Linked DNA regions of Homo sapiens: regions 2 and 3 are each linked to region 1. The links come from fine-mapping of genetic effects on gene expression. Tissue or cell type: whole blood. Region 1 holds a variant in brackets; each other region holds the start of a gene. All regions are shown on one strand. Distances are from middle to middle.

Evidence for each region. PIP is the estimated chance that this variant, and not a neighbour inherited with it, causes the effect.
Region 2: it holds the start of UBE2Q1, and the variant in region 1 is fine-mapped to the expression of UBE2Q1 in whole blood (TOPMed, PIP above 0.99).
Region 3: ADAR starts here. The variant in region 1 is fine-mapped to the expression of ADAR in whole blood (INTERVAL, PIP above 0.99).

The regions. Positions count from the first base shown.
Region 1 is chr1:154,720,024-154,722,778 of GRCh38, forward strand. The region is part of intron 5 of KCNN3 (potassium calcium-activated channel subfamily N member 3); the gene reads right to left. Among named protein-coding and RNA genes, the nearest start is that of ADAR, 110 kb to the left of the region's middle. The variant A/G (reference allele first, on the strand shown) is at 1,039.
Region 2 is chr1:154,557,491-154,559,990 of GRCh38, forward strand. It overlaps UBE2Q1 (ubiquitin conjugating enzyme E2 Q1), which reads right to left and starts at 1,172. Exons shown (of 13, transcript NM_017582.7): 1 at 737-1,172. The coding sequence starts at 1,063. RefSeq lists silencers at 767-866, 1,187-1,266, 1,357-1,446, 1,567-1,656 and enhancers at 1,026-1,607, 1,608-2,188.
Region 3 is chr1:154,606,655-154,609,154 of GRCh38, forward strand. It overlaps ADAR (adenosine deaminase RNA specific), which reads right to left and starts at 1,532. Exons shown (of 15, transcript NM_001111.5): 1 at 1,338-1,532. The coding sequence starts at 1,352. RefSeq lists a silencer at 1,306-1,415 and enhancers at 1,416-1,805, 2,475-2,500.

The DNA of each region.
Region 1 (2,755 bases):
TATAATGCTATTTATGTGATACTCAGTTAGGGTGGAGTTAAGCTGGCTTTTCTTTTCAGCAGGTCTGGGACCCTAACCCCATGCTGAGTTCCAAGGAACTGACCGCCCTAAAGCTGCCTGCCTGATGGTCTGAGAGCAAAGTGGATCTTGCATAGGCCGGGGGCCCACCCTCGCCCCTTTCTGGGCCTTCGTCTTCTCATGTGGGTTGGAGTGGCTCTTCCCTAAGGGTCCTTCCAGCTTAAACGCACATTGTTTCTGTGACTATTGCTAAAGAAAACCTGCACCCAATCTGTCTGGGACAGAACCTTGTGCGTGATGTAATTTATAATCCTCTTCTGGGGAGAATTAGCATTCCTGATAACTGCCCTATTGATTATCTGATCCATTGTAAAGACTTGAAGACTTGTTCTGGAAATCCACTGTTGAGCCCAACCAGCTGTCCATTAGCAGTCTTTAGCTAAACCTTCTATAATCTGGCATAACAATGACTACCATTGTTTTTCCTACGAAATACCACTACTAAGAGTAATCTTTGAATTAGCCTGCTGAAGAAAATTTTCTTCTAGCAAGATTATGATCAAACTTTGGCATATGCTTGTAATTAAAGAAAAGTTTTCTTCAGTGTCATTCAGGAGATAGTAGGTGGGGAAACTACTTAAAGGTTTTTGAGCAGGAAGTAATTTGTTCAGAGCTAAGCCTGAGAGTCTAAGGAGATCCATGGGGAAGCAGAGTGCAGGATGACTGGGGTAAGGGACGCCGAAGTGAGGAGAGCAGGTAGCAGGCTGCTGTGATAGTGCGAGACAGAAGATGGCGGCTTCAAGAGTGGCGGGGCCGAGGCCCTGGAGAGGCGGGCATGCGTGAACAGCCACGGCAAGGTGAAATCAGACACAGAAAGTGCTCAGACCCTCGTGGGGTCCAGGGTCCAGAGGAGTCAGAAATGGGGCTAAGTCTTTAGGCCTGGCGTCTGGAAGAACACGATGTCAGGAGCACACCAGGGAAGTTAGGAGAAGGAAATAGTTTAGGGAAGTTGTGGGTTTA[A/G]TTTTGGTCTTATTCATTGAATTCATGGGGAAGTGTACTTGGGTGAGCTACTTGGGGCAAGAAACCCCTGCAGCAAGAAGGAGATAGGATCCTTAGCACACTGTGCTGTCTGAAGGTTCTGCTCACTGTGGCTTGATGTGGAGAGTAGGTACCGCAAAGAAAATATCTCCGGTCCATGGTGCCTCCCAAGCCAAGTGTGTCCATAGCAGCCCACTCTGCCTTTTTTTTCTTTTTCTTTCCTTTTTTTTTTTTTTTTGAGATGGAGTCTCACTCTGTCACCCAGGCTGGAGTGCAGTGGCACGATCTCAGCTCACTGTAACCTCCGCCTCCTGGGTTCAAGCAATTCTCCTGCCTCAGCCTCCCGAGAAGCTGGGATTACAGGCACCCACCACCATGCCCGGCTAATTTTTTGTATTTTTAGTAGAGACGGGGTTTCACCATGTTCGCCAGGCTAGTCTTGAACTCCTGACCTCAAGTGATCCGCCCACGTCGGCCTCGCAAAGTGCTGGGATTACAGGCGTGAGCCACCGCACCCGGCCCACTCTACCTCTTATAAGAAGAAGTGCTCTCTGAGGGCAGTCAGCCACCAGAGGTTAGGGATGGAGGTGAGGACCACCTCTTACCCATCTTGGTGCCCCCAGAGTACAGAGTGTGGCACCCAGGGAGTGGCCTCTGTGATGGATCTGTTTAGCTACATAAAACAGAAAGATGGGGACATGAAAACACTAAGTGGCAGAAAAGATGGGGCTCTAGTATCTTTCTTCCAGTCCCTCTGTGAATCATGTACTTAAATATTATCTAGTAGCCCAGAGATTAGCAATAAGTTATAATTACAGAATAACAATGGCAGTGACACTGCGAAGTCAGTGTGGGAAGATCTGATTGAATTAAATACAGAAATGACGTTGCCACCAGAGTTGATAAGTCATACGAGGAAAGAAGATAAGCATGGGACTCAAGAAAAGCAGAAATTGAGTTCTTACCCAGTGCTATCAGACCCTCTTCCCTCCCTACAAACAAATAAATAAAAATAGTGCTGGCTCTCATGGCAAAGGCTAGGCTGCAGTCTTTAGAGCAAGACAGGATGAATAAATACTAGAACAATTTGAGTATTTTCTATGATTAATAGCTACAATTCCTTTTTTCGTTTTGCGTAGGTCTTTGAAGCATCAAGGTTGCATATACCGGTAAGAGACTGCTTTTATCTGTCAAATCTACTAATTGCCCACTCCGAAGAGGTTGCAATTATGCCACAGTCAACTCCTTCATGTTGGATCTTTCTCTGAGAATTCACTGAGATGTTATGAATAGACTGAGCTTAGCATTTTTTTTTTTTTTTTTTTTGAGATGGAGTCTCGCTCAGTTGCCCAGGCTGGAGTGCAGTGGCACGATCTCGGCTCACTGCAACTTTCGCCTCCCAGGTTGAAGCGATTCTCCTGCCTCAGTCTCCCGAGTACCTGGGGCTACAGGCACGTGCCACTACGCCCGGCTAATTTTTTTGGATTTTTTTTTAGTAGAGACAGCGTTTCACTGTGTTAGCCAGGAAGGTCTCAATCTCCTGACCTCCTGAGCCATCTGCCTCGGCCTCCCAGAGTGCTGGCATTACAGGCATGAGCCACCGCGCCCGGCCAAGAGCTTCTAAGGATCATGTCTGAGAGTGAGTATTTCTTTTTTTTTTTTTCTTTTTTTTGACAGAGTCTTGCTCTGTTGCCCAGGC
Region 2 (2,500 bases), 160 kb before region 1:
CTTAGAATAAATGGGGGTAGCCCTCGCACATCACATCACTATCATTACCAGGAAAAGCAACAACCCAGGGCAAATGGACATATCCATAGGGAACAGGCAGGGGAGTGGCAGAACTGCTACCAGCTGAGGCAAAAAGAGGAGAGTTAGAGGTTACACCAGAAAAAGAATCCAAAGGAGAGAAGGAAGAGGAGTCAATGAATTGCAAACTATCACTTGGTGAAGTTGAGAGAGCAAGAGGGTCTGCATGAGGGATGCCTAGGCGGGGATCCCACAGGTGGCAACCTCCTAAGTCAGAGGTACTACTGAGAAGGGGGCATCGCTGAAATGTGCAGTGAGTTTCAGGCCAGGTCTTTGCAGTTAGGGTCAGTGCCGAGGCCTAAAACCTTGAAATAAGAGTAAGGGGAAGAAAGACGCATTCCTAGGTGGCAAGGTAAAGTTGTGGAGGAGTAGCCAAAAAGAGCCAAAATCATGAACCTTGGGATGTGGGTGGGTTCGTGGAAACGGGTAGTCTAGGCGCCATATGTCGGGGTGTCCCTTGCTATTGGGGTCAATGGTAGAGATTCTGGGTGCACTGCATAACCTCAAGCAGCAGAAACAAATGTAACCTGGAGAGAAAGAACTGAGCCCTGAGAGGGGCTTCGGCCTCCCAGGTCCTTCGAGAGCAAAAAGCTGGATGGAGTGATCCTGGGTCCCTGACAAGGGGCCCCCACAGAGGCGCACGCGAGGGGGTCCTCACCGTGATGTTGCAGTGGATGCGGACAGGATCCCCAGGCACCGACCCCCGTGGGGGGAGATGCGGTCCGGGCGCGGCCCCCGCCCCGGCCCCTCCGGCCCCAGCCAGCAGGAACTCGCAGCTCAGCTCGTCCAGGCAGGCGCTGGCAATGCGGAAGCGCTCGTGGCCGCGGTGGAAGATGGACTCGAGCAGCTTCAGCTCTCGCCTCAGGCAGGGCCCCGGCCCCGGGCCCCCCCCTGGGCCGCCCCCGGCCCCCGGCGCCGCCCCCTGGCCCCCCAGCTGCTGCCCCGGCCCCGGCTGCTGCTGCCCCTGCGGCTGCGGCTGCTGCATCCTCCGCTCCGCTCCGCTCCGGGGCCGGCGGGCCGGGAGCCTCCGGCCTGCGCTCCGGGCTCCGCCGCCGCCGCCGCCGCCGCCGCCGCCGCCGCGGTCCGCACTTCCTGATCCCCCCTTCGCCAAGATGGCGCCGCCGCCACCTCCGGGACAGGCCCCCCCCTCCGCTCGCTGGCCCCCCCAGCCGCCGGAAGCCGCGCGCCCCTCCTCCTCCTCCTCCTCCTAGGCGGCCCCGCCTCCGTCCCCCTCACGTGACTTCCCTGCTCTGGCCTCCTCCACGTGATCTCTCCGTCTTTCCCGCCCCCCTGTTCTCGCCTGCCACCCTCCACATGTGACCCGGGGCCTGGGGCTTGCCTCTGTGGGCGCCTCAGTGCGAGTTTGCGTATGTCGTGCGTGCTTGCGCGCGACGCCCCTTCGCCTGCGCTCCCCTCTCACGTGACTCGGTGCCGCGTGCTCCCAGGGGCTACCCGCGCAGGACGCTGTTTCCTGCCCCGGGCGCCGCTTCCCCCGCCCCCGAGCCGTGGCGAGCGTGCCCGGCACTCCATGGACAGAGAAGAAAGAAGTGCTGTCTTCCCCGTGCAGTCTTTATCCTGCTCCCACATGCTGGTCTTCGGCGCAGGATCCTGGAGCCTCTGCTCCCCGTGGGGGTGGGCATGCTGTGTCTTCACACTCGGGTGGGTGGTCGGGGTAGGAGCCGGGAACCGGAATGGAAGAGGCGTGGATTCTCGTCCCAGCCCTGGCTCTCATGGCGTTTTGTGACCTTGGGTTAACCACTTTCCCGCCGAGTCTCAGTTTCCTCATCTGTACAATGGCTCTCATGAGAATGATGCCTGTTTTTCCTATTCCCAGGGAGGGATTCGATGCGAGGACACCATAAAATGAGGAATGATAATAGATCACTGCTGTGTTATGTACAAGTGTTAGTTAATATCAGGCCTTTCGCGCTTTTCAGACCCCATGGGTCTGGACGAGGTTGGGGGAAGGACAGCATGGGCTTCCTCCACAGAGTCATGGAAGGAGTGCTGACTCGGGTGGTCCCCATTCCCTTTCCTAGGCCTAAATGGCTAACACCTTGTCGCAGTGGTCTTGGCAGCTGCCAGGAGTAGGTAGTGCCTCCGGACCCTCGCTAGGTGGCACTATCACAAAGGACAAAGCTGGTTGAAGCTACAGAAATCCCGAGCTGGCGTTCGTTTTGCCAAGGGCAAGTGTTATTAGCCTGTGGTAAGGCCTAGTCAATTCTGCTGGGCCAACTCAGCCCTTAAACCACTGGTCAGATTGCCCCGTTTCTCTCCCACTTGTACTAAAATGAGCTAGCCTTTGCTGGAAGACTATTCAATTGCCTCTGCAGAGGCCTCCTTTGGTCAAGTTGGGGTATGGGTATTTAAAGACGATTATAGTCTGTTCCTGGTCTTCGTGGGGCCATTTATCTGGTTTAGG
Region 3 (2,500 bases), 110 kb before region 1:
GGAAAGCTACGGAATAGGAGAGCAAGAAAGTGAGCAAGCAACCCACAGTGATCCTTTCTAAATCTCTCAGCATCACCTCTATGCAAATTACATAACAACTCATTTAACATTCATTGCCTCCCAGATTTCACTTTAATCTGGTCTCACATATTTAGGATCAAGAGATAAGCACTACCCCCTTTGCCTTTACCACACAGGTTCCACAGTGCAATACACTGACACCTGTGCAGAAATGCTTTTCCTTCAAGTTAGGCGTCCTTAATCCTTTCAAAGGAGTGCTTAAAAAAAAAAAAATATATATATATCTTAACAAAATTGAGGTATATAATTTAGATACAGTAAAATTTATCCTTTTAAGTGTATAAATCTATGAATTTCGACAATCGCCACCACAATCAAGATATAGAACATTTCTATTTCCCTAAAAAGCTTTTTCATGCCACTCAACAATCAATTTCTTCCACGATACCCAGTCCCTGGCACCCACGGATCCACTTTCCATCCCTATAACTGTGGTTTTTTTTTTCCAGAATGTCATATAAATGGACTCATACAGTATGCAGCCTTTTGAGTCTGGCTTCTCGTGCTTAGCATAACGCACTTGCGAGTCACCCGTGTTGTTACTTGTAACAGTATTTCCTCTTCACTACTAAGCAGTATCCCATTATGTGGATGTATTTCAGTTTATCTGTTAACCTGCTGAAGGCCATTTGTGTTTTCCCAGTTTTTAGCTATAAAGTGGTTAACAAGCTTTCTCCTACAGCTTAAGTGCCATTTTTAACTCCCAGAAGGCCTTCAGGAGGTGGATAAGGTGAGCTGAGGATAGTGTGCGCTGCTCAAAGTCCGAACGTTGTTCAAGTGGGGCTAAAGCGGGGGTAGGGGGTTCCACAAGGGGCCCTAGCAGAAAGGGAGACGATGTGTCTGCCTTGACATGGGCTCAGGCCTTCCTACTCAGACGGGGGCGCATTTTCCCCCAAGCCCTCTTCACGCACTGCTCCATTCTGCAGAATTAATGAGCAGGATACAAATTCACAAATTCCTAAACCAGCAATGCTGCTTGGCAAGACTACACACACACGCACACACACACACACACACTCTCACAAGACGCACAAATTCCTAAACCAGCAATGCTGCTTGGCAAGACGACACACACCCACACACACACACTCACAAGACGCACAAATTCCTAAACCAGCAATGCTGCTTGGCAAGACGACACACACACACACACTCTAACACTCACAAGACGCACACGCTACGCACTGCAACACAAAGCCTGTGAGGTTGTAAACGAACCCAGACGGCGGCGAAGGTCCAAGGCCGGCCCGGCTTACCTGCCGCGGATTCATTGCGCCCGCGAGGCATTGCCCGGCCCGACCCGCCGGCGGCACGACCCTGGCCCGACCGCTGGGCCGCGCCAGCCCCTCGAGGCCCCCACGCCTCCGCTACTCCGCACTGGAAGTGGCCCCGGGGCGTCGGCACGGGAAACTCCGCGGGTCTGCGCGCCGGGCCCAAGATGGCTCCGGTTCAATTTCGCTTTCGTTTCCTCGGAAAGCCTTCCCCTCCGGAAAGTTTGGCCAAGAGGAGGGGCTTGAGCAAATCTTGCGCCACGCTTGGTTTCAGGCCGGTTACAAGTCGAACCCCTCCGCTGCATGAGAACTACGGAAGGTACTTTTTTTTTTTTTTTTGAGGCGGAGTCTCGCTCTTTTTGCCCAGGCTGGAGTGCAATGGCGCAATCTCGGCTCACTGCAACCTCTGCCCCCCGGGTTCAAGCGATTCTCCTGCCTCAGCCTACGGAGTAGCTGGGATTACAGGCGAGCGCCATCACTCCTGGCTTTTTTTTTTTTTTTTTTTTTGTATTTTTAGTAAGAACAGGGTTTCACCACGTTAGCCAGGGTGGTCTCGAACTCCCGGCTTCAAGAGATCCGCCCACCTCGGCCTCCCAAAGTGTTGGGATTACAGGCGTCAGCCCCCGCGCCCGTCCGGTACTGTTTAGGAAAACCGCCGTTTCAGTACTGAGCTCCTAATTCCCCGCACAGGCCGTAGGCAGGAATACACGAATAGAGCAAAAGGAAAACAAAGGCACACAAAACCTCAGGCCAGAAACAGCATGACGCCCGGTCCTCCCTCTCTCCGCGCCAGCGCGGTGGTGGCCGCGTCTCCAATGTGGAGGGGGGGGGGAGGGGATGGGCGGGAGCGCAGATCTCGTCAAACGACCAAGGTCCCCACCGTGGGACCTTGTTAATGCTCCTACTATGTTATAAACTTAAGCAAGCAGATGCCAGCCAGTAAAAAGTACCAAGAGTAGCAACAGCAGCAGTGAACAATTTAGGATCTAGGTCATAAAAACTACCCCACCAGGCAAATGGTTAAGTACTTTACATGTATTATCTCCCTTAATCTTCACAACAGCCCTCCAAGGTAGGCATTATTCCCACTTTGCAGGTGTAGAAACCGAGGCTTGACTAAGGCCACGCTGCTGCCAAATCCAGGTCTG